Homo sapiens: one gene and its partner. The protein of the gene in region 2 purifies or fractionates together with the protein of the main gene of each other region. This does not show direct contact. Each region holds a gene or a part of one and is shown on either strand. Other genes may lie near its edges.

Evidence for each region.
Region 1: the proteins of ALOX5AP (region 2) and FRA10AC1 purify together in Homo sapiens (affinity purification with mass spectrometry; one large-scale study listed by BioGRID and IntAct). This does not show direct contact.

What each region holds. Positions count from the first base shown.
Region 1 is NC_000010.11:93,678,342-93,682,158, forward strand, and holds part of FRA10AC1 (protein FRA10AC1), read right to left. Parts: intron 3,258-3,817; coding exon 3,139-3,257; intron 1-3,138. UniProt on the Homo sapiens protein: May be involved in pre-mRNA splicing.
Region 2 is NC_000013.11:30,734,090-30,738,652, forward strand, and holds the start of ALOX5AP (arachidonate 5-lipoxygenase-activating protein), read left to right. Parts: upstream 1-1,453; 5' UTR 1,454-1,461; coding exon of another isoform or gene 1,462-1,516; coding exon 1,517-1,586; intron 1,587-4,563. UniProt on the Homo sapiens protein: Required for leukotriene biosynthesis by ALOX5 (5-lipoxygenase). Anchors ALOX5 to the membrane. Binds arachidonic acid, and could play an essential role in the transfer of arachidonic acid to ALOX5.

The DNA of each region.
Region 1 (3,817 bases), on a different chromosome or scaffold from region 2:
TTCTCTCTATCCATTCATTCAGCTATCTAGTTCATCCATCTATTACTTATTTAACATTTTCTAAGACGGTAACCTAAAGCTATGAGAGTTGATGGGATTACACTGGGAGTACAGAGAGAAACTAGAGAAATCTAGGTAAGAGCCCCGAGGAACTCTAACAGCTAAATGTAAGACTGAGAAGGAACTTCAGTTAAAAGCAGCTAAGGAGGTCGGGTGTGATGACTCATGCTGGTAATCCCAGCACTTTGGGGGGCCAAGGTGAGAGAATTGCTTGAGGCCAGGAGTTTGAGACCAGTCTGGGAAACAGCAAGACCCTGTCTCTGCAACAACAACAACAACAAAATTAGCTGAGTATGGTAGTGCAGGCCTGTAGTCCCAGTTACCTGGGAGGCTGAGAAAGGAGGATCACATGGGCCTCCGAGGTTAAGCCTGCTGCAGTGAGCCAAGATCATGCCACTGTATTCCAGCACTCCAGCCTGGGGCCTGGGTGACAGAACAAGACCCTGTCTTACAAAAAAAAAAAAGCATTAGCTAAAGAGAGGCCAGAAAGATAGAAATAAAATTAAAGGAAGTTGTCAACAGTCCAAACGCAGCTGAGATGTTAAGCGTTTATTAATTACTCTTCAAGTCTGGTCCAAATTAAGGTGGTCTGGCAAGAAAGAATCAAATCAATGATAAAGCTAATTCTAGATGATCCCAGATAAGATATTAAAGAGTTCCACATGGTTTTCCTAAAAGTTTGCTAAAATTTTGTTATTTTCTGTTATATACCATAGAAGTTGGGGGTAAAAAAGCTATATTTCTAGAGACTTTGCTTTCAAAGGCATTCTAAATAGAGAATACATAAGAAAGAGATGTCTCAATTCCACCTTGCTTTGGTCTTCTATCCCTGAAGAATCTTCAAAGTCCTTTACTGATTATTATTTATGCTGAACATGAGCTAGTGGGGTGCTGGGGATATAGCAATGAACAAAGCAGGCAGAATCTCTGCCTCTTTGGCTTTTACATCGTCATATGTGTAATAATGGAAAGTGTCAGGAGCCATGACAGCATTACAAATGAGAGTCCTAATTTAGATTCAAGGTGGGGGATGAAATCAGGAAAGGATCCTTGGAAATGACATTTAAGAGCTTAGACCTGAAGGATGAGCTGGGATAGAACTGAGAGTTTTAGGAAGAGAAGACACAGCATCCATGTAACCCCTAAAATTGAAAGAGGCTTGACATTTTCCAGAAACTGAAAGGCTACATGGGGGGAGTGTGAACGTGAGGTACAGAGTGGTAAGAAACAAGCCTTGTATAGTACACAAGTTCTGGATCACAGAGAACCTTTTAGCTTTGTCCAGGATTTTGCTTATCAGCCTAAAAACAACAGGAAATCACTGATTTATGGAGAATGGATTAAGAGGAGGGAAGGTGGGATGGCAAGACAGAGGCGGAACCCGTAAGGAGAATATAACAGTAGCCTATAAGAGAAAATATAGTGGTTTGTAGTAGGGTGGAGAGAACTTGAGAAATATATACTCTGGGGGTAAAATTCACAGGACTTGGTGACAAATTAAACATAAATAATAAGGGGAAAGAAAGTATCAAGGATAATCCCCAGATTTCTGATATTAGTTTTTAGGTCAACATAGGTGTCATCTACTGACAGAACACTAAGGGAAAAATGTCTATAAGGAAGATCATGTGCATATGTACGCATAATACGAAGGGTCCAACCTTAGCCCTGAACCTGAGCATTCATCTACCTGATCTACTTTGATTGTACTGAGTAACATTTTATAAAGTAGAGACTAGTTCTTTCATTTGGAATACGCAGTGATTAACATGGTATCACAGTTGTGATAAGAATGAACATATAATACAATGAGGGCAACAAATTTCTTAAGTGACATATTAAATGTTTTACTAGCATATAAGGATAAATAAGTTTTTAAAACTCAAAACATATTTTTAACATTTATTGGTTAAAATTTACCTTAGAGTGGAAAATAATTAAGATAGAGACAAAAAAGGCATTCTGCTACAAATGCCATCTCTCAATAAGCAATAAAATAACAATATCTTCCTCTCACCATCTATCAATTTTACGAAGTCTAAAGGTTGGTGACACCATATACTTGAAGCTATGGGAGTAGACAGTATCACAAGGGCACACAGATTTAAACTCTGCTACATAATGAATATATTACCATGTGCAAGAAGAAGTAAATGCTTCTAAGCATGCAACATAGCTAATGATCTTCATAGCTGGAGCAAGAGAGCCCTCTCCTGTCCAAATATTATATTAACATTGGCTTGAATCTAATTCAATTACCTATCTAGATTAGTCTGATTCACTATAAATTACAGCCGATTGACTCTACTTTATTATGGGCTAAAAAAAGCAACTAGAAGTAACCTTCATAATAGCTAATATGTGCCAAGTACTATGCAAACTGCTTAATGAATTATCTCGTTTCAACTTCTGAACAATTCTAAAAGGAATCAAGACCATTTTACACATGAAGAAATTGAGTCTTAGCGAGCTTAAGGACTGCTAAAGAAAAAGCAGGCAGTTCTAAGTATAGGTGCACAGCACCATGCTAGGCTCTGAGAACACAGATATATGACAATCTTTCTCATTTCTAGAAACTCATAAACTAGTAAAAAAAGTCACACAGGCCATTATAAATAAAATCAGTGTTACAATTTTATATTGATTTATAGATTATAGACTGTTTAAAGGCACTGATCAAAGTCCCTTTCACATTCTTATTTGAGTTTCCACAATAAGCTTGACCAGTATGAAGGCCAGGTATGCACCTCACCCCTATACACATAAGAAAAATAAAGCAGTTCAGTGACTGATGCAAAGTAACAAGTCTGTAGGTGACAAAGCCAGGAATTAGAAAACTGTTGGCAATATTATACTATCTGCCAAAAATGAACTAAAATTAACCCTTAATTAATTTAGAGGAGTTCTTAAAACTCCTGTAAGTCACTTTAAGTTCATATCTAAATTCTCAGCCAGTTTCCTCTCAACTACCATAAAATGAAATTCTCAATGCATTCACCAATTAGATGAATGAAATATGGCAGATTATATTTCATGCTCACAAATGTGAGTAGATGCCTTATCTTAATTTCCTTTTACCTTTATCTTTTTTCTTGGAGGCCTCTTCTGCAGAAGATAATCTGGATTTTTTATGTGATGACTCTTCACAGTCTTTTTTGGTTTTATCTTTTCTTTTTTTTGACTTGATTTCTTTTCTCCTTTGTGTTAAACAATATAAAATTAAAGTTAACTTTTCCAACTGACCTTTTCAAAAATAACCATCATATGAACAAAAAACCAAAATCAGTTAAAATACTTATTTTTTAAATGTGATTTATATAATAAGGAACGTTAAGTGAGACTGTAAATATTTTATGCTTGTATATTAATTAAAATCATTCTATAAGATAATGAAGTCTTAACACTGACACAAATAATTACTTTCTATAAGTTCTGTATACGACCATAGTAAATACAAATTATAATTGTATTTGTTTCTTTCTTTCTATATTCTATCACTTAGCCATTTAAAACTAAATTACAAAAAAAAGCCTCATTTCCCTTCACATAATCCATATCCACCTACATGTTAAAAAAACACAAAGAAGAAGAAACTGCTGAACAGCTCTAAGCCACCAGTAAATAGAAATTTCTACTCTTAAGAATAAAGGAATATAGTAGAAGCATAATGGAATGAAAATGGAAAGGGCTTATTGTTAATTCATATATCAACATCAGGCCACTTATAATTTATACTCTTATTGTTGCAGCTTTATCT
Region 2 (4,563 bases):
TGCAATATATATATATGAGGAGACTTATTTATATATTGGTTCAGTTTCTCTGGAGAGCCTTGGCTAATATAAAGTCTATACTCTACAAAGTGCCCTAGGTACTCAGGGAGTACCCAAGTGTGTCATGACCAGCCCGACAGCCCTGGCTGCTGGCTTCCCCGCACACAACTCTGCACGCTGCCTTCATCAGCCTTTCTCTCTCAGCTGAACCGAGGGCATTGAAGCGGGCCTCTGGCACTGTACCTATGAGGGAGCAATATCTTCCCCTACACTGACCTCTTCCGTGCCGAGATGCAGCCCTCCCTGCTGCCACTAGTTACAGTGGTCCATGTTCCCTTTCAAAGTGAAGTTTTGATAAAAGCACCTCTTAACCAATGCCAAATAGCTAAGTCTGGGACAAAGATTGCAGGTATTTTGCATTTTCCATGTAACCTCAGAGGGATTGCCATTCACACTGATCTGAGCTGCAGAATACCAGGCAGCCACCTCACCCACCCAGCAGGTCCACTCTTATACTTTCTCAGAAAGCACAGCCACTCTACTCTTATTCAGTTGAAAAGAATTTCCAGGAAGGTGTTTCTGCGATTGCCTCAGAAAAGTCAGTTCCCTTTGGGAATTTCCCTTAGGGATCATCTGTAACTCCATTTCTGCCTTTTACCTGAATTCTTTGGTTTGGTTTGAATTCTTTGGTTTAATTTATGAATTCCCTTTATTACTTTTCTCTGAAGAAATGGAGATATCAGCTGTCCCTCCCCACTGCCATTTATTCCTTCCTTCATTCAAACCTTATGTGGCTGCTACTTACCGTGTGTTAAGTGTTCACTTTTTTTCTTGGAATTCAAAAAAAGAAGGACAGTATTTGGGGCACAGATCTTTTGGTGTTCTATACATTTTTTTAAAGTTTCATTTTACATTTGTGTGTGCGTGTGTGTGTGTGTGTGAGACAGTCTTGCTCTGTTGCCCAGGCTGGAGTGCAGTGGCATAATCATTGGCTCACTGTAGCCTCAAAGTCCTGGGCCCAAGCAATCTTCCCACCTCAGCCACCCAAAATGCTGGGGTTACAGGTTTATGCCACTCTGTCTGACCTGAAAGTTTTGGGTTTACTTTCCCTTCTTTCTCTTTGCTGAAGTCAGAGATGATGGCAGCTTCCAGATTCTCTGGTGCCTGTGCTGGGCTCGTGCTGGTCATGGTCTTGGGTCCAGGATTCATTCTGGAGACTCTCAGGGAAGTTTCCCATGACAAGGAAATGTAGGAGAGTGTGCTGGCTTTGCGTGCTCCTCTGCCAAGCCCTGCTTCTCCTGGTGGGACACACTGAACCACAGCCAGGGCATTTTGGTGGTTAGTTAAAAAAAAAAAAAAAAAAAAAAAAAGGAAGAAGAAGGCACTGTGTAATTGTGCCGGGGATCTTCAGAAATTGTAATGATGAAAGAGTGCAAGCTCTCACTTCCCCTTCCTGTACAGGGCAGGTTGTGCAGCTGGAGGCAGAGCAGTCCTCTCTGGGGAGCCTGAAGCAAACATGGATCAAGAAACTGTAGGCAATGTTGTCCTGTTGGCCATCGTCACCCTCATCAGCGTGGTCCAGAATGGTAAGGAAAGCCCTTCACTCAGGGAAGAACAGAAGGGGAGATTTTCTTTGATGGTTGTTTGGAAGTCAGGCTTAAACAATTGTGTCTGTGTGTGCGCATGCACAAACACTTTTACCTTATCTTTATTTTCTTCTTTTTATTTGAATGTATAGGGTTGTGTGTATTTCTGTGTAAATTTGGGGTTTTCCTCCTCTTAGTCTTTCACTTTTGTGGTGATTACCAGTCCCATTTTTAGAGCCAGGGCTGCAACTTGAAGGTTTTGCTAAAACCCTCACCGAAGTGTCTATGATCAGCATTTTAACTATTAATTAATGTGGCCAGGCAAGGGGTGGAAGGTGAGAAGACTAGAAAGGGAACATGATATACACATTTACTCAGATACTGGGCTTTTCTAACATCTGCAGTGCAATTGAAGTTACCAGTCATCTGCAGTCTAAAAAGAAAGTGATTTTGGGAGGTGCGTAGAAAAAATCATCTTATTATTTTTCCTCTATATTACTTTTTTCTTTTTTTCTCCTGAAGAAACTTTTTTTTTTGGTGATACCTTCTTTTTCTCTAGCACGTATAATTTTGGAAGCATTTTTCATATGCAGTGTATACTTCAGAAAGAGAGAGAGAGAGAGGAAAATTGTCCTGTTCAGCGTTTGCATTTCCATTATTCCTGCTATTAGTTAAAAACAACAACAACAACAAAAAACAAGCAGGATACCTAGATCTGGAAAAGGGAGAATTGTGTAGAGCTGTCTTCCTAAAGTTCTGAGTTAGGGCTGCCTCAGACCACTTTCATAACTATCTCCAGTGGCTTTGTGTTTTATATTTATTAAGATAGAGAAAAAAAGAGTAATTACTAAGGGCAGCTGCTGTAGCTTTATGGTGATTACTGAACATTGACATGCTGTCACGTTTTTGGAACTTTGAGTATTTAATCACTTTGGGATATTCTATTTTCCCCCATCTTGAGTGTGGACAGATGCTGGTGATGTAGCCTTCTGGGCACAGAGCAAGCCTCCCCCTCAGCCTCTGCACCAGAAAGGCTCAGCTTCACACACTCCAAGTATGTTTTCTACAAGAACTACACTTTGTGGCTTTCTGACCCAAACATTTTTATACTAAATTACACACAACAAAGTTGTAGCTCAGAGAGGGAACAAATGGCTTATTTAGGCCACCATTTTCTTGAGCCATTATGATTTCACACAGGGCTCCCTTGGCCCTGTAAATTGGCAAGGATTCCATTATTCAACCCGCATACATGTACAGAGACCCTGCTCTGGCCCAGATAGTATTCTGGGTACAGGCGGATAGAGCAGGAAACAAAACAGCTACAGTGATGGACAGGTCAGCCTGCAGCAATGCCTGCAGTCTCTGCAAAGGTAGCTGTATGGGTGGGCAGGTGGCTAGCACTTATTCAGCTCTGGAAGGATCTCCCCTCTGGCCTCTCCCCTGACACCCATCAATAAAACTGAGGAGCATCGGTGGACAGGGGACCTTGTGCCCCCTCCCTGCCTGTGCAGTTGGGGCTGAACCCAGCTACGAAGTTTGAGCTCACTCTCTCCAGCTCCCTCTCAATTCAGAGCTGAACTGTGGGAAGCTTCAGAGCTCTCTGTTTCAAGGACAGGTTCTCCTCACCTCTCCTAATGGAGGTGCACCAGGGAACTGGCCCTGCTCTGCCCAGGGCTTTCTCCTGGACTTTGCCATCATGGTCTAGCAAACCCTGTTCAGATTGAGGTGAGTGGTGAGATTTCGAATTCTTTTTGACAGATAGGATTAAGTCTTCTTCTGTGGGACAAGTGGGAGGTAGAGGTAAGATTAAAGATGGCCAAATGTCTGAGTCCTGACAGCCACAATATGGAGATCTAGACTTTTTACAGACCACAGGGCACAGGGGCCTCACTAACAGAGTTCCCGGAAGTGATGAGTGTGCTGGGGGCTTCCTGGTTGAAGAGACACTAGAATGGACCAGCTGGGAGCTAATTTTTTGGGCTGGAGTGTGATGGCCTGCACATCACTGCCTCTGTCCCTCCATTGTCACAGCTGCCCCTTAGGAGCCAGCTGAGGCAATTTGTGGTCAGAGTGACTTTGCACAGTTGTCCTGCCTGTGTTCAGGAAGGGAGTTTCTGTGGTCCCTTTGAAACCACAGAAGAGCCCCTCGTATAGCTCTCAATGGAGGGGGCAAAACATTCAAATAACTCAGGAGATAACACAACTATTTGTTTTTAACTGTGAGTTTTTAGGCAATCACAAAGATCCAGATGTATGTCCAAGCCTCTCTTTGCAATTCTAATTAACCTCAATGTTGCAACCATAGACCTACCTTACAGAGTTCAAAAAAATATGCAAAAACCCTGCCTTTCTTCTTCCTCATACCCCAAAATGCCATTCTGAACATTTCCTGTTAGTTAAAAAAAGATTTCCATGGTGTTACCAGGCACTGTACACAGTCTGTGTCCCAAGACAAGGAGGTACAGTTCCACATGCGCCCATGACTGGGTTGGGCTCTGCACTCTCTCTATACTTTGAGAGCCTGATTTTCTGTGATTGGGCAGAGCTGGCCCACCTGGTGCAATGTCCTCCTCTGCCTTTCAAACATGTTTTAGTCATCAAGATCTTCAAATTTGTAACCCTTTCCAGCTTGATCCAGCAGAATGCAGATTTGGAAAAACAGAACGAGTTTAAAATACATGATTCTAAGAAACCTGGACCAGAACTATCAAAACTTGGTTTCCCAGAGAATATAGCAAATGGGCTCATTGGCCAATACTATGACATTGGCTTTTGAGAAAAGAAAGGCTTTATTGCAAGGCTGGCCAGCAAGGAGACAGGAGTTGGGCTCAAATCTGTCTCCCCAGTTTGGGGCTTAGGGCAAGTTTTAATTACACAGACGCATTTCTTATGAGTAGCAGGCAGAGAGCCTCCAACTTCTTCTGCCTAGGTACCAGCAGCTTAGACATGATGCAAACCTGGGAAGCACATACTG